Linked DNA regions of Homo sapiens. The protein of the gene in region 2 interacts with the protein of the main gene of each other region in a pairwise test. Each region holds a gene or a part of one and is shown on either strand. Other genes may lie near its edges. The genes, in order: SEC22A, ERLIN1, AGR3 and SEC23A.

Evidence for each region.
Region 1: the proteins of ERLIN1 (region 2) and SEC22A interact in binary tests that used the Homo sapiens proteins (3 or more experiments, as listed by UniProt).
Region 3: the proteins of ERLIN1 (region 2) and AGR3 interact in binary tests that used the Homo sapiens proteins (3 or more experiments, as listed by UniProt).
Region 4: the proteins of ERLIN1 (region 2) and SEC23A interact in binary tests that used the Homo sapiens proteins (3 or more experiments, as listed by UniProt).

The regions. Positions count from the first base shown.
Region 1 is NC_000003.12:123,267,694-123,275,260, forward strand, and holds the end of SEC22A (vesicle-trafficking protein SEC22a), read left to right. Parts: intron 1-3,828; coding exon 3,829-4,029; 3' UTR 4,030-6,443; downstream 6,444-7,567. UniProt on the Homo sapiens protein: May be involved in vesicle transport between the ER and the Golgi complex.
Region 2 is NC_000010.11:100,161,598-100,169,470, forward strand, and holds part of ERLIN1 (erlin-1), read right to left. Parts: intron 5,810-7,873; coding exon 5,751-5,809; intron 2,499-5,750; coding exon 2,407-2,498; intron 1-2,406. UniProt on the Homo sapiens protein: Component of the ERLIN1/ERLIN2 complex which mediates the endoplasmic reticulum-associated degradation (ERAD) of inositol 1,4,5-trisphosphate receptors (IP3Rs).
Region 3 is NC_000007.14:16,878,411-16,886,390, reverse strand, and holds the start of AGR3 (anterior gradient protein 3 precursor), read left to right. Parts: upstream 1-4,407; 5' UTR 4,408-4,447; intron 4,448-5,635; exon of another isoform or gene 5,636-5,667; intron 5,668-7,745; 5' UTR 7,746-7,772; coding exon 7,773-7,881; intron 7,882-7,980. UniProt on the Homo sapiens protein: Required for calcium-mediated regulation of ciliary beat frequency and mucociliary clearance in the airway. Might be involved in the regulation of intracellular calcium in tracheal epithelial cells.
Region 4 is NC_000014.9:39,085,522-39,093,394, forward strand, and holds part of SEC23A (protein transport protein Sec23A), read right to left. Parts: intron 7,724-7,873; coding exon 7,666-7,723; intron 7,107-7,665; coding exon 7,020-7,106; intron 6,193-7,019; coding exon 5,956-6,192; intron 1,488-5,955; coding exon 1,408-1,487; intron 386-1,407; coding exon 241-385; intron 1-240.

The DNA.
Region 1 (7,567 bases), on a different chromosome or scaffold from region 2:
TTTAATTGTTTTCTTTCTATTTAGAGAGCTTCCTCTAACCATTCTTTTATGGTAGATCTGCTAGCAGCAAATTATCTTAATCTTTCATCTGATAAATGTTTTTATTTTCCTTTTATTCCTAAAGGATATTTTTGTTGAATACAGAATTCTGGATTTGGCAGTATTTTTTTCTTTCAGCACTTGAGAAATGTTCTAGTTTTTTTCTGGCCTCTGTGGTTTCTGATGAGAATCCCACTGTCTTGTTACCGATGAGAAATGAATTATCTTGTTACTGTCAAGTGAAAGTGGGTGTCCAGAGTCCCACGTGTTCTCCACTGATATCACAATAAGAGGGTAGAGGAGGGATTCATTGCCATCTAGTGGGAATGAAAGTCCTGGCTTCTACTTGCCTTTTCTGAAGCCATGCTGAAGGGTTAAAACATCTGCTTATAATGTTCTAGGCTCTCAACATTTGATGGTGTGGGTATGGGTGGGTCACAGGGGTTTTTTGTGTGATGTTTGGCTAGAGGATAATAGTTACTGTTTAAAAGTTTTCTGTCTTGCTAAGGTGCCTCTTTCCTGGTCTTTTACCAGAGAGAGCAAGATGTTATTGAGGGTCTTTTTTGTTGTTTGTTTTGATATGCATGCCTTGGCATTTCTAGTTGCCAGCTTCTTCAGCTCCAAGTCTGGGATATATGAAGCAAAAAAGAAAACTCAGAGAACCTACCACTGTGGCATTCTTGGATCTCAAGATTCTTTATTTGTCTGCTTTTCCTCCACAGTTCAGAGTCTTCTTATGCTTGTTTTACATATAATGTCCAGTGTTTTTATTTGTACTTAGTGGGAGAAATAGGGAAAAGTGTGTCTACTCCATCTTCCCAGAAACAGAAGTCCCTGAGCCGTTGTTTTTAAAGTAAGTTACAGACATCATGATATTTTTTACCTTAAAATACTTCATGATGTATCTTCTAAGAATACAGACATCTGTCTACATAGCCAGGACTTCATATCACATCTAAGAATTTAACATTGATACAATATTATCTAATATATGATTCCTATTCAGATTATTTCTGTTGTCTCCAAAATGTTTTCTGTGGCTATATTTCTCCTGATCCAGGATTATGCATTTCATTTGATTGTCGTGTACCTTTTGATCTATGATACAGTCTCCCAGCCTTTTTGTTGTTGTTCTATTTTAGTTTGGTTTTATCTTTCTTAACATTGACTTTTTTAAGAGTTCAGGCAAGTACCACAATCTGGATTAGTCTGTTACTCGTGATTATATTAAGGTTAAATATTCTGGCAACAGTGCTGTATAGTATAATATGCTGAATATCTCTCATTGCTTCAGTCAGGAAATGTGATAAGTTTGATCATTTGGTTAAGATGGTGTCTACCAGATCCCCATTGCAAAGATATCTTTTTCTTCTTTGTAATTAATAAGTAATATGTGGGGTAGAGACCTATTATTTTAAAAGCCTTGGAAAACCTTGAATTAAATATATGTGTGTGTGTGTGTGTGTGTGTGTGTGTGTGTGTGTATATATTACTGGAAATGCTAGCTCATTTTTACAGTAGCATTCCAAGCAATAAATATAGATAAAAAATGGAAATATAAAATCACCATTAAGCGAACACCACAGTAATCATTGTTGCAGGCAAGAATCATTAATGGATACTAAAATTAATGAGCAAAAGTATGATGAGATAAGATATTCACATAATCTCAACTCCCTGCCCCCAAGACAATAATTGCAAAGGGAATAGATACCACCTTATTAAGTGATCTAATTTAATATGTAATAACATGTATTGCGTATCACCTCTGATATTCTTGCCAAAATTGTATAACCTCATTTCAATCTTGACAAAACATCAGACACACCCAAGTTGAGGGACATTCCTACAACATAACTGATTAATACTCTTCAAGACTGTCAAGGACATGAATTTTTTTTTTTTTTTTTTTTTTTTTGAGATGGAGTCTTGCTCTGTTGCCCAGGCTGGAGTGCAGTGGTGTGATCTCGGCTCACTGCAACCTCCGCCTCCCAGGTTCATGCCATTCTCCTGCCTCAGCTTCCCGAGTAGCTGGGACTACAGGCGCCCGCCACCACACCCGACTAATTTTTTGTATTTTTAGTAGAGACAGGGTTTCACTGTGTTAGCCAGGATGGTCTCAATCTCCTGACCTCGTGATCCGCCTGCCTGGGCCTCCCAAAGTGCTGGGATTACAGGTGTGAGCCACCATGCCTGGCCAAAAATTTTTTTAAAAAAAGATGGAGGAGCTGTTACAGATTGGAATATACATGACAATTAATGCAATACAGAATCCCAGATTAGATTCTGGACCAGAAAAAGGACCCTAGTGGGACAATGGGCAAAATCTGAATAAAGTCTGTAGATTAGCTAAGAGTATTGAATCAATGTTCATTTCCTGGTTTGATGATTATACTATGATTACATAAGAGGATAACGGGGAACAGGGTGAAGAGTATACAGTAAACAAAGCGTATACAATAAACTGTTTTTGCATCTTTAACTCTAAAATTGTTTAGAAAGAAAAAGCTATTTTTTTCTATTTTTTCAGTCTTATATGATGAAAATCACTGATAAATACTTCCAATTCATTTTGCTTGGATAGCAGTCTTCTTTTTAAGTAAACAGTCCAAATTTGCATAAGAACTAAACATATTTAACAGAACATTTCCACATTCTTTCTGCATTATAACAGACACTGGTGTGTCCTTCCCATTCTGAAGCCTGGACACAGTTTCTCAGAGAGACCTGGGCCTCTCTCTTAGACTTTGTGGTTCCTATACTTACCAGGTTGTGAATTTTAGACATCTTCTAGAAAACAGTTTATTCACTCAACACATTGAGCACTTACTATGTCCCAGGCACTGTTCTGGGCACTGGAGATAAATGAGTAAATAACAGTAAAAAATCTCACCCCTCATGAAATAGATTCTGTTGAAAGCCTATGGATGACAAACAAAATAAGCACATTTCTCAAGTATGTTTATAGTATGTTGTGGAGAAAAATAAAGCAGTAAAGGGTGAATGCCAGGATGGGCAGGAGCGGTGAGAGGGGGAGTACTTTCTTGACCGTTTCATCTAAAATAGCACCCACTATCATTCTTACTCCCTATCCCTTTTTCCTGCTTTCTCTTTTTCAAGACATAACTGTTTGATATTATATATTTAAAATACATTTATAATTCTTCCCCATTAAAATTTAATATTTATATGAACAAGGGCTTTGTTTTACTTACAACTGAAGAACAATGCCTGACTTGTAGCAGGCCCTGAGTAAATATTTGTTGAATGAATTCTCCCTCAAATGTTCAGTCAGATGCTGTACCTAGCATAGTTCCTTGTACTCAGTGGGCGACTAGTAAAATGTTGTGGATTTTGTTAATACTCAGACTCAGGTTATATTAAGAGTCCATTTTGTAGAATAGCTTGTATGTGCTTTTTTGTATTTTCCTGGGTGAGAATGGAACACCCGCAGACCCTGGGAATGCTTCTTAGTTGCCTGTCACCATGGGGAATTTGCTCAGCCTGTTTGCAAGGAAGTCATTCCATTGTACTTCCATTTAAAATATGATACAAAATGCTTTTCTTCTGAAAAATGAAAAACTTAAGAGGAAAATCTATTTCCCTTTCAAACTGTGAAACTTTCATAGCTGAATGTCTTAGATATATGCTACATTATCTTATCCCTAGATAAAAAATAACCTTATCCATTCTTATATTTTACTCTCTGACCTGTTACAATTTTATATTAGAAACATCTGTTTCTTTTCCTGTAACCCTAATCATCTTTCATTTTTATATTTTGAACAGTGTTATTTACTTGTCTACTACACCGGCTGGCGGAATGTCAAATCTTTTTTGACTTTTGGCTTAATCTGTCTATGCAACATGTATCTCTATGAACTGCGCAACCTCTGGCAGCTTTTCTTTCATGTGACTGTGGGAGCATTTGTTACACTACAGATCTGGCTAAGGCAAGCCCAGGGCAAGGCTCCCGATTATGATGTCTGACACCATCCTTCAGATCTATTGCCTTGGCTTCAGGGGGATAAGGAGGGAACATATCATAACTGCACTGTGATGAAGAAGCTGTTCCCCACAGAGGAGAAGCTCTGCTTTCTTTCTCTCCAACTTTCCTTTTTTAAAATCAGCATGATGTGCCTGTGAGCATGGAAGAGTCCTCTCAGAAGAATGTTGGCCATGAGACTATCATTCAGAGGAGGAGGGGATTTCTCTCTTCAAGGCCGTAACAGTGGAAGAACAGTCATATGCCATTGGAAGTCTTGGCCAGCAGTCCTGAATCCTTCCTGAAGAGTTCAGAAAATAGATGTGGTATTGCTCTGAGGACCAGGCAGGAGGAACTCTACAACCTGAGTTTGCCTTTGTGAGGCATTAGTATAGACCAAATAAAAAGCTGCAGAAATTGGAAAGTTTATGTTTTAAATAAATGACTGTGATAAATATCAGATTATTTGCACACTTATGGTACTACGAGTTTATAAAGTCCAAGATGGTGTGAAATTGGTTCTTTTTACTTTTATATTTTTGCTTGAATCTTAACTCTGGAAATCACCTGATGTAGAAGAAGACTGTGATGAGCTCGTCTGTGGAACATCACAAGTATCGAAAATACAGTAATGGATGTTTCCTTTCTAATCCACATTTATTGTTTCTTTTGAAATCACGTCTAAAAAATATGACTCACACTATAGCCGTTGTTTCCCAAACTTCAGTCTCTTTAGTACTACTTGTATTATTTTCTTAATATTTATCTTTTAAATTTTAAAGTTTTTTTAAAAAAATGAATCCTGCTCCAAGTGGAAAACCAGTATCAGTTTGCCATAAATAAAAGGTAACCACAAAATAAGTAAGATGAACACAAAAAATGTTGTTCAGTTCTAGCTAGAAACTAATGCCTAGAAAGGCTCCGAATCTTAGGCTCTTTCTTTGTGGCAGTGAGGGAGATGTTACCAGCACCAGCATGAGGCACTGTCTCTGGAATAGTCAGAGGATAAAAGGAAACTGTAAAGGGAATGACATTCTCACTGTGATTCAGCATTATTCTATGTTGTGCATCACTTAAAGACATGTTGTGTGCCACCAGTGGCATGGGTCCGCACTATGGAAATGCTTGACTGTAGTAAGAATCAGAAGGTGGCTTTCCTAGCAACTCATTATTTTATGGCTTTGAGGAATTAAGCCCCTAGTATCTGAGAGAACTTACTTGTTTTTTGATAACGTTTTAAAGATTGTTTAAGCAGTTATGAATTAATAATATAGGAAGCACAGTTGGATTCCACTAGCAAAATCTATAACTCTCATGGTTTTGGAAGTCATCTTCATGGGTGATTTTCCTTTGTTTTTTAAAGAAAATATTTCAAACAAGGAATTCATAGGATACTGAAATTTGATATCATCCAGAAAAACAGATCCCATTACATTGTAATTGTTGTTACTAGGCATATTTATTAAGTAGAGAAATAGAGGGTAAAAAGTTAGTGAACTGTCTTGTTTGCGTGAACCAGTATTTGTGGATATGTCTAGAACTGTAAAATCTTGCTTAACTAGAACCTTAGTCTGCACCCTCCTTTTAGGAGAATGAGGTAAAAGGAAGACAATAAGCTTATGATATCAGGGATTCATGTAAAACAGGAAATAGTAGTTGGCTCCAGTCTTCTCCTCTAACAAAAGTATGCATATTCTGAGAGATACCCCAAGGCATCACAAGATCCTGAATCATCAAAACACCATTGAATTGTGTTGGGCATTTTGTAGCCAGGAAAGTGAAGTGGTTCAATTTAGAAAGGGTTTCAGGCCAGGCACGGTGACTCAGGCCTGTAATCCCAGCACTTTGGGAGGCCGAGACAGGCAGATCACTTGAGACCAGTAGTTTGAGAATCAGCCTGGCCAACGTGGTGAAACCTCATCTCTACTAAAAATACAAAATTTAGCTGGGTGTGGTTGCGCGTGCCTTTAGTCCCAGCTACTCGGGAGGCTGAGGCAGGAGAATCGCTTGAACCCAGGAGGTGGAAGTTGGCAGTGAGCCAAGATCACGCCACTGTACTCCAGCCTGGCCAACAGAGCGAGACTCTGTCTCAAAAAAGAAAGGTTTTCTAAACTAATGGTTAAAACAGAATTTTCTTGTAAATAGGGAAGTTGGAGCATTCTGGTTGAGATTTTGCTCTGTATTGACACAGCTCGCACCAGTTTGGTTCAGGAGCTACCTCCTTGTCATTGAATTGACGAGTTACAATGTTTGGTATTCGGATACATTCAGCAAGAACACTTGAAAACTCCTCACCAACTATTTTTAAAGGCTTACTTTGTTTTTGTTTTTATTTTTTCACTGGCTATTTTGGATAAGAGGATGTTTACATCTTAATGTAAAAAAATGAAAACAGGTATAAATGTTTTATGTATAGAAATGTTTTCTTTCATTATTTGGTGCCTGTATCTCCGTGTTTATATCATTTCCCCACCTGTATCATTGCTGCCAAAAAAAGAACTTTGAATTTAGAAAAAGAAATTGGTGTAAAGTCCTGGCCGGGCACGGTGGCTCATGCCTGTAATCCCAGCACTTTGGGAGCTCAAGGTGGGTGGATCACGAGGTCAGGAGTTTGAGACCAGCCTGGTCAACATAGTGAAACCCCGTCTCTACTAAAAATACCAAAAAAAATAAGCTGGGCGTGGTGGCAGGCGCCTATAGTACCAGCTGCTTGGGAGGCTGAGGCAGGAGAATCGCTTGAATCCAGGAGGCGGAGGTTGCAGTGAGCCGAGATCACACCACTGCACTCCAGCCTGGGTGACGGAGTGAGACTCTGTCTCAAAAAAAAAAAAAAGTCCTTAGGCTCTTTAGAAAGAATCACTTTAGGCCTCCATGGTGTATGATCTTCTGTTTCTATTGCACTTCTAAGAGCAAGCCTGAGTTTACCTCCTCATAGTTTTGTAGCATAGGAGCAGTAGTAGCTGCCCTCACTCTAAGGGGGAGGACACAGAGGTGATCAGATGGTAATGACTTAGCCAGTTCACATAGCTAAGCACACACAACCCTGATCTAGTGCAGGGCTCTTCGCACTAGCATGGAACTAGTGAAGGTGACCAGTGTTATATTCAGGGAATATGACTGTTCTTGGTAAAGCCAAGGAGTTGAGGGGTTCTGAAATTGGTGAGTCCAGGCCTGCTGCTGGAGTATTTTATCCTAATAGGTGTATTTTATTTTAATTTAGATAATTCCTAAATACTGCTTTTTGATTAAGGTGTACCATGAGAGCGAAGATACCCTCTTTTATATACTAAGATAATTGCAATATTTGCTTGCTTTTTTCAGTCTGTATTTGAAATATATTTACATTAATACCTGGCCTCTTTCCCAAAAGCACTTGAAGCAGCATACCAAGAAAAGACATATACAGCCATGTTAATGAAATATGAACAGAAAGGGAAGAAAAACAAATGAAAATTGAAGGGAGGGTTTACATACATTATTGTATGTAAAATTTGACTCTGGAACTTTCTGGAAATCAAGGCTAAGGGTAGGGAAAGAAGTTAT
Region 2 (7,873 bases):
CAGGATAATTTTAAATATAGTTAGGAATAGTTAACAGGTAAGAGAAATAGTTACACAACTCACTCTCCACATCGCAAGACTTAACATAAAAGCTACAATAATTAAAACAAATTAATATTGAGGAAGGAGAGACCAAAAAATTGGAAAATAATAGATTATGGCATCAGAATAAATTATGTATAGTATCTTATTATATGATGGATATGGCATTAGAAATAAGTAGAGGAAATAATAAACTATTCAATAAACAGTCTGAGACAATTGGCTTGCCACTTGAAAAAATTAAACTGAATCCCTATGTCATACTCAACACCAAAATAAATTCTAGATGGGCTAAAGACTTAAATATGAAAAGCAAAACTTTAAAACTTTTAGAATAAAAGTCTTACTTTGGACTAGGGAAAGAATTCTTAAGATAGGAAAAGCACAAAACATAAAGGAAAAGACTAATGAATTTGTCTACACAAAAACTACACATATATGTATATCGAAGACATTGTAAAGTTCAAAGACAAGCCACAAATTGAAAGATGTTGGAAATGCATAAATCTGAAAAAGGATCAGTATCCAGGAGACAGAAAGGACTCTTACAAATCAACTCAAAAAAGCAATCAAATAATGGGCTAAGGACATTAACAGGCAATTCATATAACAACAACAAAAAAGGAAACTTGAATGACCAATAAGCAATATTCAACTTTACTAACAATCAGGGAAATTCAAATTGAAATTATGTGATACCATGTCTTCCATTAAACAGACATAAAGTTTTAAGTCTGATAACTCCAAGGACCAAGAAGGATGTGTGGAAATGGGAATTCAAATATGGCAGCATAGAAACTGGATATCAAATATTGTTGAAGAGATGGTAAAATCAAAGAAGTACTTGAGAGAGCAATTTGTCAATATGTTGAATGTGAAGACATGCTACCCTATGACCCATCAATTCTACTTTGAGATAGCTATTCTAGAGCAGTGCTTCTCAAACCACCTGTGGAAAAATACCTTACCTTTTTGTGTGTGTATTTCAATTTATGAGGAACCAATAAATTGTAAACTATAACAAAAACAAATTACAGTACTAGAAAAAAGAAATTAAAAAACAAAAACATAAATATATAAGCTCTGATTTTTTATTTTTGATTCAACAGACATAAAACTGCTGTATTAAAATGCTATAAAAACTTCTAAACACTCATTCTCAATTTCTATACTCATCTCATTGAGGCTCAGAAACAAAAAGCTGGTGATAGGGCACTGGCCCACACCATACACTGAGTAATGCTACTCTATGGAAACCTGCACATGTACACTGTATCCAGGAGGCACTGGATAAGAATGTTATTGTGGCAGTGTTTGTAATAAGGAAAAACTAGAAACTACCTAACTCCTCATTGGTAATTCATTACAATAAAACTAGGCCCGCTCATAGAACGAAAAATGTAGCAGCTAAACATAAACGATCTACCATCTCACAGAGAATAAGGATAAAATGCCAAAAAAAGAAAAAATCCCTAGATCTACATGTATCAATATGAATAAAACTCAATGTTAGTGAAAATAAGGCAAGTTGTAAAATAAGAGTTTGGTAACATTTTTGTAGTTTCAAACAGGTAAAACAATTTTATAAACTCTTACACACTTACAGTAAAAGTATAAAAATATGGACAGAAAGGATATACATCAACTTCAGAATAGAAGTTAATCTGAGAAGAAAAGTCAAAGAGTAGGACCAGTGAACATACAAAGGAGGCTTCAAACAGATATTTAATTTTTTTCTTAAAAAAAAAAAAAAAGATCTGAAGGGAATAAGGCAAAATCTTAAGCTTTCATTATATTGTTCTCTGTACATTCCTCTATAATTGAATTATTTAATTAAAGATGTATTAAACTTTCAGCATCAACCGAGGGCCAAAGAGGGCAATCTAATACACAGTGACCTGGAGTATAAGGGAAGCCACTGTAATCTGAAATGAACTGTAAACAATCCTGCCATGCTTTCATAAACGGCACTACCTATCCAGGTAAAACTAAGTGCATGTCAACAACAAGGATGCATACTACAATCTGAAACTTTGGTCAAAAAACTTCCCTATTCTTAATCTGTACAAATGAAAATGCTATCCACAGACTCAAGCTGCCTATAAACCCTATCCATTCTCCCTGTTCTTGAAAGAGACAACAGTAGCATCTAACAACATGATGGACAGCCACAGCACATCATTAAGTACTGGTCTCACCTACTTTTAAAGGCTTTAGAACATCTGAATGTACAGTGGAGATTCCAGAATTCCCCACTACCTATGATGCAATCTTACTGAGTCCCATGATACCCAAAATGAGACTGACAAAGAACAGGACAAACAAATGTACTTAGAGACAATCATTTCAGAGAAATCCAAGTACCTATAACTGCCTTTTTCCTCTCTGTCTCAGCTTCTTTTTCCACAACCTTTTGTTTCTGTGCAGCTATAAGGAGTTTTGTCTTCTCAGCCTCCCTGTGAAGCAAAATGTTATAAAAATTAGAAATGATTCTCCTATGTGCAGTCACAGCCAGTAATTCTGACCCTACAGTGAGTCAGAGAACCGTTTTGTCAACATGAGCTTTTGGACCCATTAAGGTAGGTTAAGAGAGGTGTTACTTTATTTTACTTATAATAAATCTGAGGTTGAAAGATTCAATGATTTGCCCAAAGTCACCCAGAGATAGGAAAAAAATTTAGTACATTTGAATTTTAGTTTGGCTTTCTTCTCCTAGTTGTATTGTGTAAAGCCTGTGATTTGGAAGGGAATATATCAATACTTCCTTTGCTGTTAGACCTCCAGCTAGTCCATACAGCAGCTCTGTGCCAATTAGAAAACGGCACCAGCCGTTTCTACAGTCCTGCAGGTGCATGGTTTGACATGCAGAATGAAGCTGGGTTTCAGCCCCTGCCCTCCTCAGGTGGGCACCCATGTGCAGTGACCATATTTGTTGCACAGAAGATATAACTAGGTGGTAGTTATTAGGTAGTAAACTGGGGCTTACAGTAAGGAGAATTTTCTAAGGCTTCCAGTGTCTAATACAGGTTGAGCATTTCTGATCTGAAAATTTGAAATCCAAAATGCTCCAAAATCTGAAACTTTTTGAGAGCCCACATTATGACACAAGTGGAAAATTCCACACATAAGCACTTAAGGTAAACTTTGTTTCATGCACAAAATTATTTAAAATATTTTATAAAGTTACCTTCAGGCTATAGGTGTATATGGGACATAAATAAAATACCTTAAAAAAAAAAAACTAACCACTATACCAACAAGGAAGAACATAAATAAATTTTATATTTAGACCTGGGTCCCATCCCTGAGATATCTCATTATGTCTATGCAAATATTCCAGAATCTTTACAAATCCAAAATTTAAAATACTTCTGGTCCCAAGCATTTCGGATAAGGGGTACTAAACCTGTAATGGAAATGGCTGGCATATTACTAAGCATGTACAAGTAGCTACTGGGTAACCACGTGGCAGAAATGGTATAAGAAAACACTACTATCAGGTGCAAGGTTATACTGGATCATCCCAAGGTAGCTTTTAATTCTGGAATTCCAATAGTCCATAAAATTAAGAAAGATCCAGAATCATCTGAAAAGTAACTCCAATAGTTTCCCCAAAACACTTCCCCTCAAAGTTTCCCCTTTCCTCTGATAACATTGATAAAGACATCAAATGACAGTCTGAATACTATGATTTATTTGAGAGCAGAAAACACACAATATTCATTTTTCCGTCACCAGAAGCAATCTTTTTTTTTTTTTTTTTTTGAGATGGAGTCTCACTCTGTCACCCAGGCTGGAGTGCAGTGGCACTATCTCGACTCACTGCAAGCTTCGCCTCCTGAGTTCACGCCATTCTCCTGCCTCAGCCTCCCGAGTAGCTGGGACTACAGGCGCCCACCACCATGCCTGGCTAATTTTTTGTATTTTTAGTAGAGACGGGGTTTCATTGTGTTAGCTAGGATGGTCTCGATCTCCTGACCTCGTGATCCGCCCACCTTGGCCTCCCAAAAGTGCTGGGATTACAGGCATGAGCCACCGCACCCAGCCTAAGCAATCATATTTAAAGCCTAAGACATGCTGACAGTTTAATAAAATTTTCTTTTTGAGACAGAGTTTCGTTCTTTTGCCCAGGTTGGAGTGCAATGGCGTGGTCTCGGCTCACTGCAACCTCTACCTCCCCGGTTGAAGCGACTCTCCTACCTCAGCCTCCCCAGTAGCTGGGATTATAGGTGCCTGCCACCATGTCCAGCTAATTTTTCTATTTTTACTGGAGACAGGGTTTCACCATGTTGGCCAGGCTGGTCTCAAACTCTTGAACTCAGGTGATCCGCCGGCCTCAGCCTCCTGAAGTGCTATGATTATAGGCATAAGCCACCACAGCCCGCCTATAAATATTTTTTCAATAAGTGGATCACATCCATAATCTACCCAGCCTGGCAGTCTACATTTTATACTTTTAAAAGAAGAGTTCTTTGTCTACAATGAAAAAGAGAAAACAGGCTGGGTGTGGTGACTCAAGCCTGTAATCCCAGTACTTTGGGAGGCCAAGGCAGGAGGACTGCTTGAGCCCAGGAGTTTGAGACCAGGCTGGGCAACAGGGCAAAACTCCGTCTCTATGAAAAATACAAAATTTAGCTAGGTGTGGTGGCATGCACTGGTAGTCCCAACTACTCAGGAGGCTGAGGTGGGAGGATCGCTTAATCACTTGAGCCTGGGAGGTTGAGACTGCAGTGAGCCGTGATTGTGCCACTGCACTGCAGTCTGGGCAACAGAGCAAGACCTTGTCTCAAAAAAAAAAAAATTAAGAAAAAGAGAAATAAAACTCTGTATGAGCTCAGAGAAGGTATGAGGGAAAAGGAAAATATAAAAGAAGAAAAAAACAATAAAAATCTGCATGGTAACAAAAAGGACTCAGAAGTAAACAACCTCATAAAGTAGTATTACTGCTCCTTGGACTTCCAGTATTTATACATCTGTGGTATCCTTGACTTGTGCAAATTTATTTTTCCAGCGTCTTATACTTTCCCTTTTAACACATCAGCCAAATTTCCTAAAGACTTTTATTTCTTCTTTTCAGTACCAGTCATACGAAAACAATATTGCCATTTCAAACACAGTAAGTATTCCCCTAAAAGGGATCCTGTCAGAAACTAATTTCATGTCTTCTCATTCCCAGTCAGCCCTGGATACATAAAAGAGAAGACTACCAGGAGTCAACAGAAGCAAGGCTTCCCTAGAGGCACATTATAAAGAACCAGGTCTAATTTTAGATATACAATCACATACAATGGAAAACCAAACTTTATACCAACAAGGTATCTATTCCTACCATTACAACACAGAAACAAAATATGAGCACTCTCTTCAACCCTAACGGCTTCAGGACTCTTTCCTCTATTAAATATTTAATTCAAGGTACTATTCATATAAAATTATAGCTCCTTAAGCTTCCAGCAATAGTTTTACAGCAAACTGCATCTTTAGCCACTGAAACTGCTCCTGAAATGTCCATACATAAAGAGAACACTAGTAAGAGTCTAGTGGGAATTAAGACACAAGAATAGGCAATATTACTAGAGTAAGAGTAAAGAAGATAAGACACATACTCCACCCCAGAGTGTATTGTCTCACATGTTTCCTCTAGACTGGAATATTAATATGCAGACAGCCCTAAACAGAAATATTGGGATCCCATGCATATTACTCACATTAACTCAAAATTTCTTCTTATGGCTTCTGGGATTTTGGGTTTTGTAACACGCACAGCCTAAAAAATAAAAGTGAAAAAGCCAAAGTATATTTGAAAGATAAATCTTCAAATTAAATCTTCTACAGAAAAGCCCCTCAAATGATACTAATCTAATAAACAACAGCTATAATATAGCGGCCTACTAACACGTTTGGGGATCCCACCAGAACATTTACTTTTCATGCCATCACACCAAGAATCAAAGACAAGCTGCTTCTTATTTCCTTACACAATGCCAGATTACAGGAAAAACCATCTACCCACTGAGGAAACAACTGCCTTATGAAAAAGGTTCTCACTTAAAAGATGTTTTACAAAGGTCGTTAGATACTTTTGCTTTCTTTTTCAACCCTGTAAACCAAAGAAGCCGGGAAGGCAAAGTTCCAAGACTGAAATTGTAAAGTCAGAAACAATTAGTCAAATACAAAAACAAACAAAAAAACCCAGGTTGGTGTATACAATTTAATACAGTGAGTAGTGAGTAAATTAATCTATCACTTCCAACCCCTGCAATCACTTGGTATTTGCTGTAAGTAAACAGCCCACTGGCTGAAGGAAAACAAATATCAATTAAAAGCTTATATTCTTTCTTCCTTAACTCTCACTTAGAACAAAGTCTGTCTTTGTAGAGGCTGTTTACCAGACACTTTGTTTCCCTAATCATAGTGTTCTTTGACACAATTAAGATTATCTACCTGGACAGTACTGTTTTTTGAAGGCTGACTTTTCTACATCAAGGACTTGATCTCTCAAAAGCTTTTGATTTTACTAAACATACGATACCCCGCCGCCCCACCTATACTGCAAACACACACAAAAAACACTTTGCTGGTCTGAAGAAGTTTTCCTTCTGAAAACTGGCTAACCTTTTAAGAATAACAAAGCCTTTAAGCACTTAGTCTTCTTTAAAGGCTTTTAAAACTTTTAAGCGATATAGCATTTCCTATATGAAATAGATGAGTCAAATTTGTAGGTAATTTTGAGGACAATCATAACTAAATATAAGGATTACAGTGGAATGGAATAAGCAGCTGAAGGCTGTGTGGAAAAAACTCACAACACACTGGCAGTGACACATGTGAGGCCTCACAACTCAGTGGAGACATGCAGAAGACAAATAAAAATTCAGGACCAGATTTTGTGAGATGTCAGATTTCACCATGTGACTAGCAGACATAAGATTACTTCCAATATGGATTAATATGATTCAAGGAAGCACTGTCATACTGCATTTAATTAAGAGACTGGCCACATATCTTTTTAGCCTTATTAAAAGAAGCGTAAAGTAGGACTTTTTTTTTTTTTTTTGAGATGGAGTTTTGCTCTTGTTACCCAGGCTGGAGTGCGGTGGTGCAATCTCAGTTCACTGCAACCTCCGCCTCCCAGGTTCAAGCGATTCTTCTGCCTCAGCCTCCTTAGTTGCTGGGATTACAGGCATGCGCCACCAAGCCCGACTAATTTTTGTATTGTTTTTTAGTAGAGACAGGGTTTCACTGTGTTGGTCAAGCTGGTCTCGAACTCCTGAACTCAGGTGATCCAACCACCTCGGCCTCCCAAAGTGCTGGGATTACAGGCGTGAGCCACCACACTCGGCCAGGACTGTCTTTTGAAGACTCCTATTTTGCTGAATGAGGCTGAAGAACATACTACATTGTGCTTGCCAATCTTGGGAAATCTCACAGATTTTCAAATATGTGAAAACATAAACACTTACTGTACAGATACCATGAGTAAGTTGCATCAAAAGAGATTTTAAAAGTAAAAGTGGGAAGTCCCACTCAGGCACCCCTCTCCCTCACAGGAGAGAGAGCTATTCTCCTTTCTGTTTCTTTTGCCTATTAAACCTCTGCTCTTAACCTCAAATAATAAAATAATGCCCCCATCCCACTCACATACATAGAGTGAATGGAGGAAAAAAATGGCTAATGAAAGGAATATATGTATTGAAACTGACCCCTGGGTTTTAAGCATATATTATATATCAAAAGCCAGTCTATAATATAGTCACTCCCTTAAATAACATAGGAAAAAAAAAATCAAAGATGACCATTTTCATCATTCTAATTTGCCAGAGTAGTTTTT
Region 3 (7,980 bases), on a different chromosome or scaffold from region 2:
CTTTATTCTATGGCTTGGTGCTTTTATGTCTGCAACTTATGAATATATTTATTTTTTCATGTTAAAACATAACTTTTAAAACTCGGATCACATTATAACACCTTATTTGCCATCTTAAAAATGTTCTTTATCCTCTAATCTCATGGTAAGACCACATCCATATTCTCCAGCCTGTTGAACGGAGCCAAATGCCCCACACATCACTCAAGAGCCCTACCACTCTTTCCTCCCCACACCCGTTATTGTCTCCCTCCTTTCCCTGCTTCTGTTACTCTCTGGCTCTGCTTTCTTCTTCCCATTTTCTGTATCTATTCTTCATCTACTTGAGAACTATTTGGGGATCTCACTTCAGATTTACCATGGCTGCCTCCCAGCTCTGCACAATCCATTTTAATTTTATTCATGTCTTCCAAAACAGGCCCTCCCTGACCTGGGCTGAGGAAACTGGCCAGGCTGAGTCCCTGATCTCCACCATGGCAGGAAAAAATGATATGCCTGTTTAAGATATAAAAGCATTTTTATGGGAAAAAGTACAAAGTTATCACGACAAGCTACAGGTAAGAGCCTGATTGAAGGACTTGAATCTCTAATCCAAAAGCTACATGCACAATTCTACTTAATCTTACTTAGCTCACAGGGCAAATACCAAGGAATAAATCTCATTTATATTTATATTGTAAAAATACCACAGGTTTATCAAGTGTTTAGATGTAATACCCTGCAAGTTCAGAGACTTTATGCTTAATGGAAATAAAACATTATTGTTTTGCAATGGGAAGTGTAACTAATTTTGACAGAGCAAGAACCTGTAGGTTACAGACATTGATTATGAGAGGCTTATAAAAACACTATGCATTTAAATGTTTGGTATAAAATTGCACAGCTCAATAATGAATTCTGGAGGTATCTATTCCTTTAACCCAAAGAGTCTTTTTTCTCCAAACCCAATATTTTTAAAAATAACTATTTGCCTCTACAGGATTTAGAAAACAGTGATACATAAATGCTCTCTGCAAGACATTATTCTCTTTCATTTACTGAATAGTTTCACAAATACCTGTCCTAATATGGTACAATCTTCAATATTATTACATAAAAAAGAGGTTCAGAAGTATTCATTGAATGGCACCATTTGTGTTAATATACAAACATAAATAGGTAGATGTATAAACCGTTATTGCCTCAAGAAGACCCATAGACTGGGCAAGAGGAATACCTACTTTCCACTGTCAGCCTTTTAAAATGTATATATATTTTCTTAGTAAGAGACTGATAAACTGAAATACAGACAAACAGATGGACACATACACACACACACACACACACACACACACACAAAGTGAATAGGTAATCCTAATCCTATATTTAACCAATGATTTATGTGACCAATTAAACTTGTAAAAATATAGAACAATGCCCTCAAAAGAATCAACTCCAAGAGCAAAACAGCTTGATTTATTATTAAAAGAGTATATAATTAGACACACTTATATTCTGTTCCTGAATAGAATGAAACAGAGAGGCCCTACAATTTTGTAGCTTGGAAATTTAATGAAACATTTAAAATAATTATAAGGCAAGATGACTTATGTTACTTGTTTTATCTTGTAAAATTTTCTGTTGAAGAAGGTACTCTAAGCAGAGGCTAAAAGACAATATTTGAGATAATATTTCAGTAAGATTAAAATTAGAATTAAAACTGTCCTCCAGTGAACTGAACTTTCTCAAATTACTGGGTAACCCATCGGCTATAGAAAAATTATTTTCTTAATTAAAAATAGGATGTAATATGACCTACAGGAAGAGTCAATTGAAGCTGTTGACAATTCCAAATCCATTAACCGTAAGATTGATTTTGAAGATTATTGCAGGCAATTTTATGAAAAAATAAATATGAGGTCACATTGAAAAAATAAAGACAGTTAATGCCAGAAAAATACCAGCCACCTGGTATCAGATAGGTACAGTTAAGAAAATGATTAACATAATTATATACAAAGAATAATTTGTATAATTTGCCATCATGTACATGAATATACTTTAAATAATTTTACTTCTAAGAATAATCTTTCATAGAACCATTTGTGATCTATTACACAATAAAACAAATTTTGGATGACAAATATATATTTCAAAATATTATTTTAAGATGCTATAATTCCAATGACTTTATTACCTCCTTTTACTTTCAAAATTGTCCTGGGTTAGAGGACACATTGCATTATCACCCTAGTGGGAGAGACCAAAAGACACTGATCAGCTCAGACATTATAGGGTCTAGTTTCACTACCCCACAGGTACTCGACTTCCTCTTTCTCACTCTTATCTTATAATTTATTTAAATGAATATTATGTGAGAAGTTTAACAGGGATGCAGAATATTTGGAGATTTTTCCGTAACCACTCTCAGTCAACAAGAAGTTGAAAGCTTTCCCAGACTTTTCACTAACAGAGAAATATAAGGATTATTGCCCAGCCATTTCTTTGCTTTGCAAAGGCTGGCTGGATTTAAAATTAAAATTATATGTCAAGTTTCATAACCTTCAGCAAGAAGGATTCCATTTGAATAGCATGTTCCAGGGAAGGGTCCCTTTGAGAATCCTATGTAAGGAAGAAAGCACAGTTAGACAAGTACACAAATCAGCAGTACAGTTAAAGAATATACAACCTAGCTACATGAAGTTTCTTTCAGGACAATGGAAAGTTTAATTAGGAAAACAGTAAAATTTTCTATAACAAATGAGAAAATCCATATGCCCATCTTTATAGAACAAAATCCAACAGTCCTGCTTTTAAGAGATGTAGTTTAAGAATAATGGTTACCTTCTTAACATGGTCAACTCAGCCAAATCCAGCACTACATCTAAAGTTAAAATACTGGAAGCACACCCGCTTTAACATCAGGAGCAAGACAATCATCACTCCCATTCTTGCACAGTATATTTGTTAATGTATTCAGAGCAATTAGACCCTTCCCCACAAAAAAAAGAAACAAAAAAAGGGTGGGAGAAGGGAGGGATGGAGGGATGGAGGGATGGAGGAAGAGAGGAAGGGAGGAAGAGAGGAAGGGAGGAAGAGAGGAAGGGAGGAAGAGAGGAAGGGAGGGAGGGAGAGAGGAAGAAAGGAAGCAAAGGAAGAAAGGAAGGAAAGAAGGAAGGAAGGAATTTATAAACAATACCCTGGATTAAGGTTCAACAAACATTTTCTGTAAACATTTACTAAAGATAGTAAATATTTTAGGTTTTGCAGATCATACAGTCCCTGTCACAAGCACAGTTGACCCTTAAACAACATAGATTTGAATTGTGTGGGTTCACTTAGAGAAGGATTTTTTTTTAATATATTCCTTCATATGGGCAAGTTCTGTATCCACAACCAAAAGTGGATCAAAAATACTGTGTTCACGGGATGCCAAACCTGCATATGCGGAGGACCAACTTTTCATATCTGTGGGTTACGCAGGGCCAGATATGGGACTTTGAGTGTGCACAGATTTTGGTATCCACTGTCCTGGACTGTACCGGACTTTGCTGTTGCAGTGCAAAAGTAGCCATAGACACTAGTAAGCAAATGCACATGGCTGCATGCCATCCGCCACATCTCTCTCTACTTAAGGACACTGAAATTGAATTTCATATAACTTTCACATGTCACAAAATATGATTCTTTTGGGTTTTTTTCCCCAACCGTTTAAAAATGTCAAAACCGTTCCTGTTTCCTGGGCTGTACAAAAAACAGGTATGCCAAATTTGATGACACACTGCCTTACGTTATTTTAACAGTAATTAAATAATTACTCTCAATTAATTCAACAGTATCTAACTATTAGATAAATTTAAACTTATCTAATGGCCTGTTTTTCTAATTTTTTGTGCAGTAAAGGTTTTATAGAAAAATTGTAAAGAATAATCAAATTATGAAAATGTTCAACTTTAAAACAGAATTTTTATTTCCTTCTCTCTCAAAAAAAAAAGGACCCAATCTCTTTAGCTGTTAATTATATTCCTGTAAACAGAGTAACCCTTAGGAATTTCTATTTGAACAATGGCATGCACACAGTTCTTAAATTCATTCCGTTTTCTTTCTTCCTTTTCTTTTTTTTTTTTGTGCTGAACTTCAGCCAAACATTAAACTACCTTGGGAAATAAAAGGTAAAAGAGAAAGAAGCACAAAGATGGTATTTGACCTTATTTTATGAGGACATTCAATCTTAATTTAGAGAAAAAGAATAGAGCTTTTTTAGTGTGAGAAGCATGAGAACTGGAAAGAAGTACAGAGTTTTTCAGACCAGCCTATTTTTCTAAGTTTGTTTTCCGGTAACTATGCTCTTGTTTCTATGCAGGTGAGGTTGTAGGTCAGGTGTGTGTGTGTGTGTCTATAAATCCACACCCATTTTTAACCAGAAACATCCAGAATACATTTCCAACAAGAGCACTGGCCAAGTCAGGTAAGCAAGCAAATTTTCCAGATTACTTAATCAGTGGTCAAGCTTTGCTATATTTAAATAATCACCTTTTGCTATTTAAAAGTGAAGCTTTCAGTAAAGGGTAGGAAAGTGAAATGAATTTTTATTTTTCTTCTTTTACTGAACTGGATTTCCTTTGCTGGTTTCATAGTTTTATCTCTATTTATATTAATGGTATTAGAATAAATTGACGTCAACCACAAAAACGACTCTTTGAAAAGTATTCTACAAGTAATGATAGCTCTTCTTTATATTCTTTTAAGTCTTGTTTTATTTTAAAATATAGGAACTTATAATATCAGTTACTTACGTTAAATTACTTTTGAAAAATAAAATACTAATGTCATAAAATGCTAATTGACCAATGTTTATACAATCTAATTGCTGACATATGGTTATGTGCCTCCCAAATGCATTTTAAGCTGCTGTAGGCCTGTAACCATGCCACATTTATCTGTGTTCCCCCAAGTAGCTTAACCTTGCAACTGATACTAAAGGACCCTCAGCAGTTTACACTATATTTTACCAAGGAAAGCGTTATTTATTCAAAATCTACAGTGTACAAGTTGTACTGCTTTGTCACAGAATATATTTAATATCTATTTTATAATTTATCAATGTAAAACCAGAAAACCAAGATTTTTATTTTTTAATTAGAAAGTATTTGACAATAATACATAAAGACTTGAAATTTTAAAGAAAAAATGGTTCCCGCTTAACTCTAAGCTTCGCAGCTTTAAAATAGCAAAAATGATGAGGTTATGCTTTTTCTTTTTTAAAATGCAGATTCCACCTGCTTGTCTCTGTAGCTAACATAGAAAAATCTTTCTAAAGATTCCTTCCAGATTGACTTTTCTTAACTCTTCTTTATATCCAAGATCCCTGGAAGAATTTTAATGACGTTTTGGACCCTATTCCCACGGAAAAGGAACAGAGGCAGATAAAATTTTGCACACAATTTCCAGGGGTTTTGAGCCTTCTGTAGCTCAGCCACAGGCCTTCTAGAAGCCTGCTGGATCCAGGTTAAGATCCTGTCCTAGGTGGTTGCTTTAGTTCCTCCACTGCAACTCCCAACCTGTCTAACTAAGGCTGCCTTCCCTGGGTTGAGCTTTGTGTTCCAGAGTCAACTGTCCCTGTCCTGTACTAAAATCCACCCTGTATTTGTTTCAGTCTTTAAAGTACAAGATGACCAAGGCCTTAAGGTACAAGATGACATTCTGAAATGTTTTATGGTTTAATAAGTTATGAGAACTTAAACTGAAATTCTTATCAGGCACCGTGATAATTGTTTAACAGGGTTTTTATATGCCTGGAAAGAAAGGACAGGAAAGGAGGGGAAAGGAGGGGAGAGGAGGGGAAAGGAGGGGAAAGGAGGGGAGAGGAGGGGAGGGGAGGGGAGGGGAGAGGAGGGGAAAGAGGAGGGGAAAGGAGGGGAAAGGAGGGGAAAGGAGGGGAGAGGAAAGGAGTCCGGGCGATGTAGCTCACCCTTGTAATCCCAGCACTTTGGGAGGCCGAAGCAGTTGGATCATTTGAGGTCAGGAGTTTGAGATCAGCCTGGCCAACATGGTGAAACCCCATCTCTACTAAAAATACAAAAATTAGCCGGGCATGATGGTGGACACCTGTAGTCCCACGTACTTGGGAAGCTGAGGCAGGAGAATCGCTTGAACCTGGGAGGCGGAGGTTGCAGTGAGTGGAGATGGCCCCACTGCACTCCAGCCTGGGTGACAAGAGCAAAAAAAAAAAAAAAAGAAAGAAAGGAGAGAGAAAGAAAAGAAAGAAAGAGAGAGAGAAAGAGGAAGGAAGGAAGGAAGGAAAGAAGGAAGGAAGGAAGGAAGGGGAAAGAAGGAAGGGGAAGGAAGGAAGGGGAAGGGAAGGAGGGAGGGACAACTGGGGATTAGGGAGGGAAATAAAGTAAGGTTAACCTGGAGTGGTAACTATTTTCAGTCCATAGAGGGGCTGCAATAGATACACCACTGGGAAGGGGAAAACAGTATAATGGGAGGAATGAGGAAATGTCTGGAGAAATCTAGAATCTGTAAACTTCTTTACCACCAAATTGTTGTTCTCCTCCACGACTGCGGTTGCTACTTTACAATAACTAGGTGATTAAAATTGCCAAATGTTTTACCAATGCCAAAACATTGTGTCTTATATATCTTTTCATTTTCCACAATGCCTACTACAATAAAATATAGCAACATCTTTGTTTGAACAGAATCACTAAAGAATCAGTCACTAGCCATTTTGGCTAAGGAAATTTTACTATTTTGGTGATGAGTTCAATACTAAATAATGTAAGCCAATAGGAAAGACGTCTTAAAGGAACTTCAAATCAATGTGAATGATGTCTGTATATTTATTTTATATTTTGAGGTAAAGTTTCAAAACTGCATGAGTCAACCATTTTCAAATCAGTTTTATATGCTAATGCTGTAACTAAACATCTCACAAGTATTAAAGACTTCCTGTAATATATTTATCAAGTGGTTTATGACCAGATCAGGCCCAACTTTGGACTTCAGTTTTTATCTTAACGTGCAAAGTATAAAAGATGCACATTGAGTTAAGAATCAGTTTGAATTCTAGCTAACCAGGAGAGAATGTAATCATGACAGTCTATTCTTCTCTATACATATGTCTAATTTATAGTAATATGATAGTACTTGATTTTTATAAAGAGCTGTATCATAAACTGAAGGGCAAAAGTCTGAGTAATTGTTGGAAGGATGAGAAAGGTAAGAAACTATAAAGGAACTGAAGGACAAGAATCCTCCATATTCTATTTTTCCTCTGATTTCTATTTTAAGCAATATTTATTCATGTATAATCTTATCTTAGTATAGAGTTAAAATATTTTGACCTATTAGATGAAGGAGAATCAAAAGGCAAAGAATATTTCTGCATGCTAAAAGTCACTTCATAGTTTACAAGACATCAAACAACATGATCTTATTTGAGTTTCGTCTTGTTGGTGTGAACACTACAGGGCGGTTCAGAAGCAGGCTTCGTGTGCCCTGATCCAGCTCTTTTTTAATTATACAGCACCATGCCCAGGAGGCTCAGAACATGACTTCTCACCAACTGAGCATGTACTGAGTTGATTAAGTATTTTAAAAATAAAATGTGAATGAAAGTTCTATGTGGTTGGTTATACCATGTCAAACCAAAAAAGCTGAACAGTCTGTCATCACAGTATTGGTCCAACTCTTAGCAAATATCTTCTAATAATAGCTTGAAGTAATTCACTGGATTCTGAGAATTCCTTTCTGTCATCTAGCTTCTTCTGAGAGAGTCTCTAGAAGACATGATGCTACACTCAGCTTTGGGTCTCTGCCTCTTACTCGTCACAGTTTCTTCCAACCTTGCCATTGCAATAAAAAAGGAAAAGAGGCCTCCTCAGACACTCTCAAGAGGTGCTGTAATCTCATTTTATTTTCTAAACTCAGTCATTTGGATTGCTTTTTAAAATATCTGGTGTCTTCACTCATAGTCTAATTATAAAGCAAATTCAA
Region 4 (7,873 bases), on a different chromosome or scaffold from region 2:
ATAGTATCAGAATTGAACTGAATTACAGGACACCCAGGTGGTATCGAAGGCAGAACTGCTTGGTTGGTATGTGGGGGAAAACCATAGAAGTATTCTTTGTTGATGCTGAGTGAGAGAATAGGGAGGAAAAAAAGCACTTTGGTTCTTCTTATCCTTATAATTATATATACACACACACACACACACACACACACACACACACACACACTTTACATTCCAAAACAAAACCATCTTCCCTACCTCCAGCAGTCCTACAGCTATGGAAAGTGCCACCCCAGAGGAACGCAAAGGTCTCTTTCCCTGTGGTACAGGCCAAGGGTCTCGCTGGAGTTCTCCCAGAAGATCTGTGAGATTCATGTCTATTTTCTGTACTGGTTGTAAGAATCTAAGAAACAGAATTAAATAAAAAGCCATTTGTAAATGTTTATGGGTGAGAGTTCGATAAACAAATTTCACTTTCCTAAAAATAGAAAACAACACTCTGAACACACAGCAGACCAATGGTTCTCAAACTTTCGTGTATATGAGAACCAGCTGGAGGGCTTGTTTTAACACATATTGCTAGGTCCCAGTTCTAGAGTTTGTTTCGGTAGGTCTGGAGTGGAGCCGAAGAATTTGCATTTCAAACGCATTCCTAGGTGACACGTGATGATAACAGCCCCAGAAACCACATTTTGAATACAACCACAATAAACGAAACACTCAAACCAAGTACTTCAGGATTTCATCTCTCACTAGTCTAGTAAGTTTTAGGTTACTGAAATAATTATGAGAAAATACATCAACTAAATTTTAGTAATACTACCTCTGATTAGAAAGCTTAGGGGAAAAAGCTAGCAGGGCGCGGTGGCTCACACCTGTAATCCCAGCACTTTGGGAGGCCGAGGAGGGAGGATCATAAAGTCAGGAGATTGGGATGGTGAAACCCCGTCTCTACAAAAAATACAAAAATTAGCCAGGCATGGTGGTGCATGCCTGTAATCCCAGCTACTTGGGAGGCTGAGGCAGGAGAATTGTTTGAACCTGGGAGGCGGAAGTTGTAGTGAGCCAAGATCATGCCACTGCACTCCAGAAACCTTAGCGGGAAAAGCTACCTCTAAAGCTAAGAAGAAAAAATAAAAACCTTGGCTGCCCTAAAACCACACAAAAACAAGTTTTTTCCAAAGTTCAAAATAAAAAATAAGGAAAATAACAAAACTAAAGTAACTCCTTACATTGTTAAGACAAAAAACAAACCATTTTAATGACATGATTTTGACTCAATTCTTTAAAAAGTATGTTAATACAATTTACTTATATTCCTAAAAATATTTAACAATATAGTATCACTGAATGCCTATGTTCAAGGGTATGGAATGTTTAAAATAGCTACAGAAACGGTCAAATTCTCTTCATCATATTTATTACCTGTTGGAAGGAGGTGGCTGCTGTACCTGAGGACCACGTGTTGCTTGAGTAAGTGGTACTTTAGAGAGCCCCAGCATTTCCTGTAAAGAGATTACTTGTGCAATATTCATTTAATTACTTTTACAAAGATTTATCAACTATTTATCATGTATAAAATGCTGTGCTAGACATTAGAAACACAAAAATAAAAAATACAAGGTCTCCTTCCTCAGAAAACAAAGAATCCAGTGGGAGAGATTATCAAGAAAACAATAACACAAAATAATCATCATGAGAGAGAAAAGCACAAGGTGTTATATAACCAAAGAGGAGGCATATTAGCTCAAAAACACTTTATTTCTAATTAACAGTCAAAATAAATTGTTGTGTAACTTAAATGTCCATACTTCTTAATTTATATTCATTCATCCGTTTCAGCAAACTATATCATAAGCACCTGCTATGTGGCAGGAATACAATGGTAAAAACTAACTAGTCCCTTCCCTCATGGAAATTAAAATCCAGAAACATAAATTAATCAAATCAACAGATAAATAAATGTAAAATTGCAACAGTAGTAAATGTTAGGACTTGGGGAGTTATAAGGCTCACGTACTTTGTACCTATATACATCTTGATTTTCTAATGTAATTCATAACCAAACTACGAACTGCCACCTTTGTTTTGAATTTCAGATATGTGCACAATTTCTCTCTAGACAAATGAAAATAATGTTATACTAAATTTTTCTTGAATCTAGAAATGCTTAGTCATGAAGTACTGGAGTTATAAAACTGTGTAACAGAAAACTGAAGTCTAAAGATGTACAAAGATAAAATTAGTGAACTAATCCTGCAATATTTCCTATACTGTTAGCAGAAACAGCAACTCTTTACTAAGAACTTAATATGTTCCATATTCTATGCTAAAACCTTTATATATACTATTTCCTCACAAAACAATAATGAAATAGATTTCTTCTTAAATTCTACTTTATAAATGAAAATTGACAATCAGAAAGACTAAGTAATTTGTCTGAGGTTACACAATCAGTAAGTAACAAAGCAAGATTTTAAATCCAGGTTTTTCTATAAAGCTCTATAAGGGTTTACACCATATTGAGAATTTCATATTTAGTACTAATAACCTGGCAAAATAGGTAGTTTATTCCTTTCTATGAAGGATGACACAATCAGCAAAGACAAAAACCCAGGATCATACAACCAGAAGAGTTTAAGATTTGAATCCAGGACTATCTGGGGAGCAAAGGCCAGGCTCTTTTCAACTAATAATAGGGAAAGAATAGGGAAATTTAATCTAAATAGGGAAAGAAAATAAACATGTTTCAATGGAGAAAAAAAATTCAGTCTGCAGGCATTCACTTGCCTATTGAAAAAAGGAAGATGTGGCCAGGCGCAGTGAATCACAGCTGTAATCCCAGTATTTTGGGAGGCCGAGGCGGGTGGATCACCTGAGGTCAGGAGTTCAAGACCAGCCTGGCCAACATGGTGAAACCCCATGTCTACTAAAAATACAAAAATTAGGGCCAGGTGCGGTGGATCATGCCTGTAATCCCAGCACTTTGGGAGGTCAAGGTGGGCAAATCACAAGGTCAGAAGTTCAAGACCAACCTTGGCTAACATGGTGAAGCACCAACTCTACTAAAAATACAAAAATTAGTAAGGCATGGTGGTATGCTCCTGTAATCCCAGCTACTTGGGAGGCTGAGGCAAGAGAAGCGCTTGAACCCAAGAGGCAGAGGTTGCAGTGAGCTGAGATCGTGCCACCGCACTCCAGCCCGGGTGACAGAGCGAGACTCTGTCTCAGACAAACAAAAAAAAACTAGGCCGGCCTCAGTGGCTCACACCTGTAATCCCAGCACTTTGGGAGGCTGAGGCAGGGGGATCACCTGAGCTCAGGAATTCAAGCAGCCTGGCTAACATGGTGAAACCTTGTCTCTACTAAAAAATACAAAAATTGGCCAGGCGCGGTGGCTCACGCCTGTAATCCCAGCACTTTGGGAGGCCAAAGCAGGCAGATCACGAGGTCAGGAGATCAAGACCATCCTGGCCAACATGGTGAAACCCGGTCTCTACTAAAAATACAGAAAAAAAAAATTAGCCGGGTGTGGTGGCATGCGCCTGTAGTCCCAGCTACTCGGGAGGCTGAGGCAGGAGAATCGCTCGAACTAAGGAGGCGGAGATTGCAAGATCATGCCACTGCACTCCAGCCTGGGTGACAGAGCAAGACTCCGTGTCAAAAAAAAAAAAAAAAAGAAAAAAAAAGGAAGATGTTTTATGTGCTTCATATGCATTATATAAGTAAAAGGTACTCTACAATCAGAACAGTAAACTATTCTAAATAAATTCATAATTTAATAATAACATTAATAGTAGCAAATGCTTAAATGTACAATTCATTTAATTCTCATGACTACACTATAAGGTATATACTATTACTATCTCTATTTTACAATTGAAAAAAACTAAAGCACAGAGATTTCAACTGGTTCACTTTCTCTCCTGTCTCATGGAAACATGATTCTCCTCTCTAAGGTACTCCGCTTCCTGTGCTCCTGAAGGAATCCCTACTATGTCTTCCTAAACCTGACTTTCCTCATCTCACTCTTGCTTTAACTCACCCTCTTTAGTCTCTTTCCTTTCTCCTTCCTCCTAAAGTACATCTCTTTAACTCAGTTCTCTCTCAAATTCCCATGCTATCTCCTCCTTCATTACCTTCAACAAACCTCTTAAAAGAACAAACTTCAGGCCGAGCACGGTGGCTCACTCCTGTAGTCCCAGCACTCTGGGAGGCCGAGGAAGGTGGATATCCTGAGGTCAGGAGTTCAAGACCAGCCTGGCCAACATAGTGAAACCACGTCTCTACAAAAATACCAAAATTAGCTGGGCATGATGGCGGGTGCCAGTAGTCCCAGCTACTCGAGAGGCTGAGGCAGGAGAATAGCTTGAACCCGGGAGGCGGAGGTTGCAGTGAGCCAAGATTGTGCCAATGCAGTCCAGCCTGGGTGACAGAGCGAGACTCTTGTCTCAGAAGAAAAAGAACAAATTTCAACTTTCTCTACCTTCTCAAATCTTATTCACTATTCATTGACTAACGCATTCATTACTCATTATCCTCCCCATTTAAACCTGCAAATTCCCCTAGTATGTTCTCTTAGTTAACTGCAGCACCACTACCTCAGTCTGCCAAGTTTCAAATTAGACTCACCCTCAAAAATCTCTTCCTTTCTTCTTCATTTTGGTCTACCTGGAAGCCTCTAAAGTCTGATTTTACATCTGTCAACTTTATGCCAGGCTTATCTATCATCTTCTAGGGTAAATGTTCTCAACTAGGAGTTGCACCAGAATTACTTAGAAAGTTTTTTCAAAGTACCTACATGAACAATCTTATATTATATATATAAGGTATATATACCAACTATCCCCCAATACAAACAGACATTCACTTATTACTCTCTTATGGACTATCAAAATCTCTGGGCAGAAAAAAAGATGTTCATCTGAGCAGATGATCCTAGTATGCTACACATAACTCCTTTGCCTTGGAAGAGAAAGCTTCAATTTGTCCCAGTGATAAAAACCACTAAAAAACATATGTAACCATAGTTCCTACACTAAAAATCGTCCAGTCTCAAAATAACTTCCCTCACCAAACATACTAAAAGTATTTAGTTCTTAAGTGAAATGTTAAGAAATAAAAGCTCTCTCCTCAGCTGCCACCAAGGTTCTCGGTTCTTATGAGGAAGCCAAGACCACACTGGGGTGAGACCCTCACTTCATCAGGTGACTAGCACCATGTCAGGCAGCACCAGCCCTGCACTCGCCCACATCATGGCCTCCATCTCAAGTTCTTCTGTATCTCCTTGGACCTCATTCTGCACGACAATGAGGTGACCATCACAGTGGATTAGATCAATGCCCTTGTTAAAGCAGCTGATATAAATGTTGAACCTTTCTGGCCTGATTTGTTTGCAAAGGACTGGCCAATGTCAACATCAGGAGCTTCATCTGCAATGTAGGGGCTGGTGGACCTGCTCCAACAGTTGGTGCTGCACCTGCAGAAGGTCCTGCCCCCACCACCACTGCTGCCCCAGCTGAGGAAAAGAAAGTGGAAACAAAGAAAGAAGAACCTGAGGAGTATGATGATGACATGGACTTTGGTCTTTTTGACTAAACCTCTTTTATAACATGTTCAATAAAAAAGCTGAACTCTTAAGAAAAAAAAAAGAAACAAGCTAATATTCTGCAGTTGCTCTCTCTTAGCCTTCAGCATGACTCTTCATAAGCCCTTCAAATCTCTAGTAAAATACTGTTGGTTTGACTTTAAATTTTAAAGATATAGTTAAAAGTGAAGGGTGTTTAATCTGTATAACAATTTAAGGCACATGAAAAGAAAACTGAAGCCAGCACTGAATTTAAAGCCTTTGTTATAATACAATTATATTAGTTATTCATAATAAAAATTTGTCCTAGAAACATACAGAAGGCATTTATAAACATATATAGAGTAATTTTCAGATAGGTAAAAACTACCATTCTTGTTGTTTACCTGCAGTTGTTTGGCAGACAAATCTTTTGTTCCTCTGAAGACATAGCTTTTTGAAATGCCTTCACATCCAAGTTCATGAACCTGAACCATTCTCCCAAAAGTAATAAGTCCAACCAAAGCTGTAGGTGGTAAAAGACTTAATGACATCTGCATGGATTCTTTCAGGGCTTGTAAATCTTCATCTTCCATGCAAGTATCAACCACATAGAGGAATATCAAAGGCATCTGAGGACCACGCTTTTAAAAAATTCACCAAAAAGAAAAAATATGTAGTTTAAAGCACAGCATACAAGACAGTCAACAGGGAACTAATTAAATAACGAATACAAAAGAATCCTAGTAAAGCCATTTCAGAAATGAAACAGGTTATTTCTACTGTCATGGAGAGAGATCTAAGACATATCATCAGGTGAAAAATTAAGTTTAAGAACATGAGGTATAGTTACACAGAGGGGACTTTCACTTTCCATTTTATTTAACTACATGCATAAGGTTTCATTTGACTCTTTTAAAATAATTAGTAAACCTGACTTGGATTTTCAGATAACTAGAAACTAGCCAGGCTGGACAAATTACTGAATGGTCCAAGTGAACCATAATTGTTTTCTCTAAAACATTCATAAAAGATATTACTTCCACAGTAAAACATGTAAACAACTATGGTTAAGTATTCAGAAAGAGAATAAAAATGATTTTCCTAAAGACCAATGCAAGATTATTTTCATTAATTAGACCTGGGGGATACATTAGCCAACTCCAGCATCATATTGACTAAATATTTGTTAACTGACCTTCCAACTACAAAGCAAGATTTATACTTTATTGTTTACTGATCTACTCAGTATAGCAAATCACACCACCCTACCCAGTATCTTGGCCACCCATCAAATAAGTACAACATAGGAATTACCCTGCTCAAACTGACCTCAACAGTTCTTACCTTTGAAATGTTCCATCAAATCAATGTGAGAATTAAGCATGATTCCTTCTAAATCATCATAATTTAACAATTCTTTCAGTATAAATTTTAAAACTTTCTTAAATATTTGTTCTTAGGTTCTTACCAGAACTACATATTCAATGCTAGAAAACTGAGGTAAAAGTTCAGCAGGCTGATTCAGTTCAGATATACCAGCATAACTAGGTGGAAACTACAAATAGAAAACAAACAAAAATTTTTAACAAATTATAGGCTAGAAAGATTAATAAAATTTTAAACAAAGTATTTCCTGATCATTTAATTATTTTTAAAAAGGCATTTTCATTAAATGAGAAATAATTATTTGTATCTTTTTTTAAATATGCATTTTTCTACATGACTAGTATTTTGGCATTAACATCTGCAATGGATGTTTTATGGGTTTTTTTTCATTTGTTTGTTTGTTTGTTTTGTTTGTTTGTTTTTGAGACGGAGTCTTGCTCTGTTGCCCAGGCTGGAGTAGAGTGGTGCAATCTCGGCTCACTGCAAGCTCCACCTCCCGGGTTCATGCCATTCTCCTGCCTCAGCCTCACGAGTAGCTGGGACTACAGGCGCCTGCCACCACGCCCAGCTAATTTTTTTTTTGTATTTTTAGTAGAGACGGGGTTTCACTGTGTTAGCCAGGATGGTCTCAATCTCCTGACCTCGTGATCCACCCGCCTCGGCCTCCCAAAGTGCTGGGATTACAGGCATGAGCCACTGCGCCCGGCATGCAATGGATGTTTTCTTACCTGATTCCTTTGGTAACAAAAGTTGCAAGCCCAAAGTTTTGCTCGATAATCCACTTGACTGTTTTAAAAAAAAAGAAAAGACATATCAGTTCATATTTCAGTTCAATTTTACAAAAATCCTAATTTCAATAAAATTAATTTCTTCCTAAAACATGAACATATTCAAATTGATAGTCAAAGTAACTTTTAAAAGCCATGTAGTTTTAGA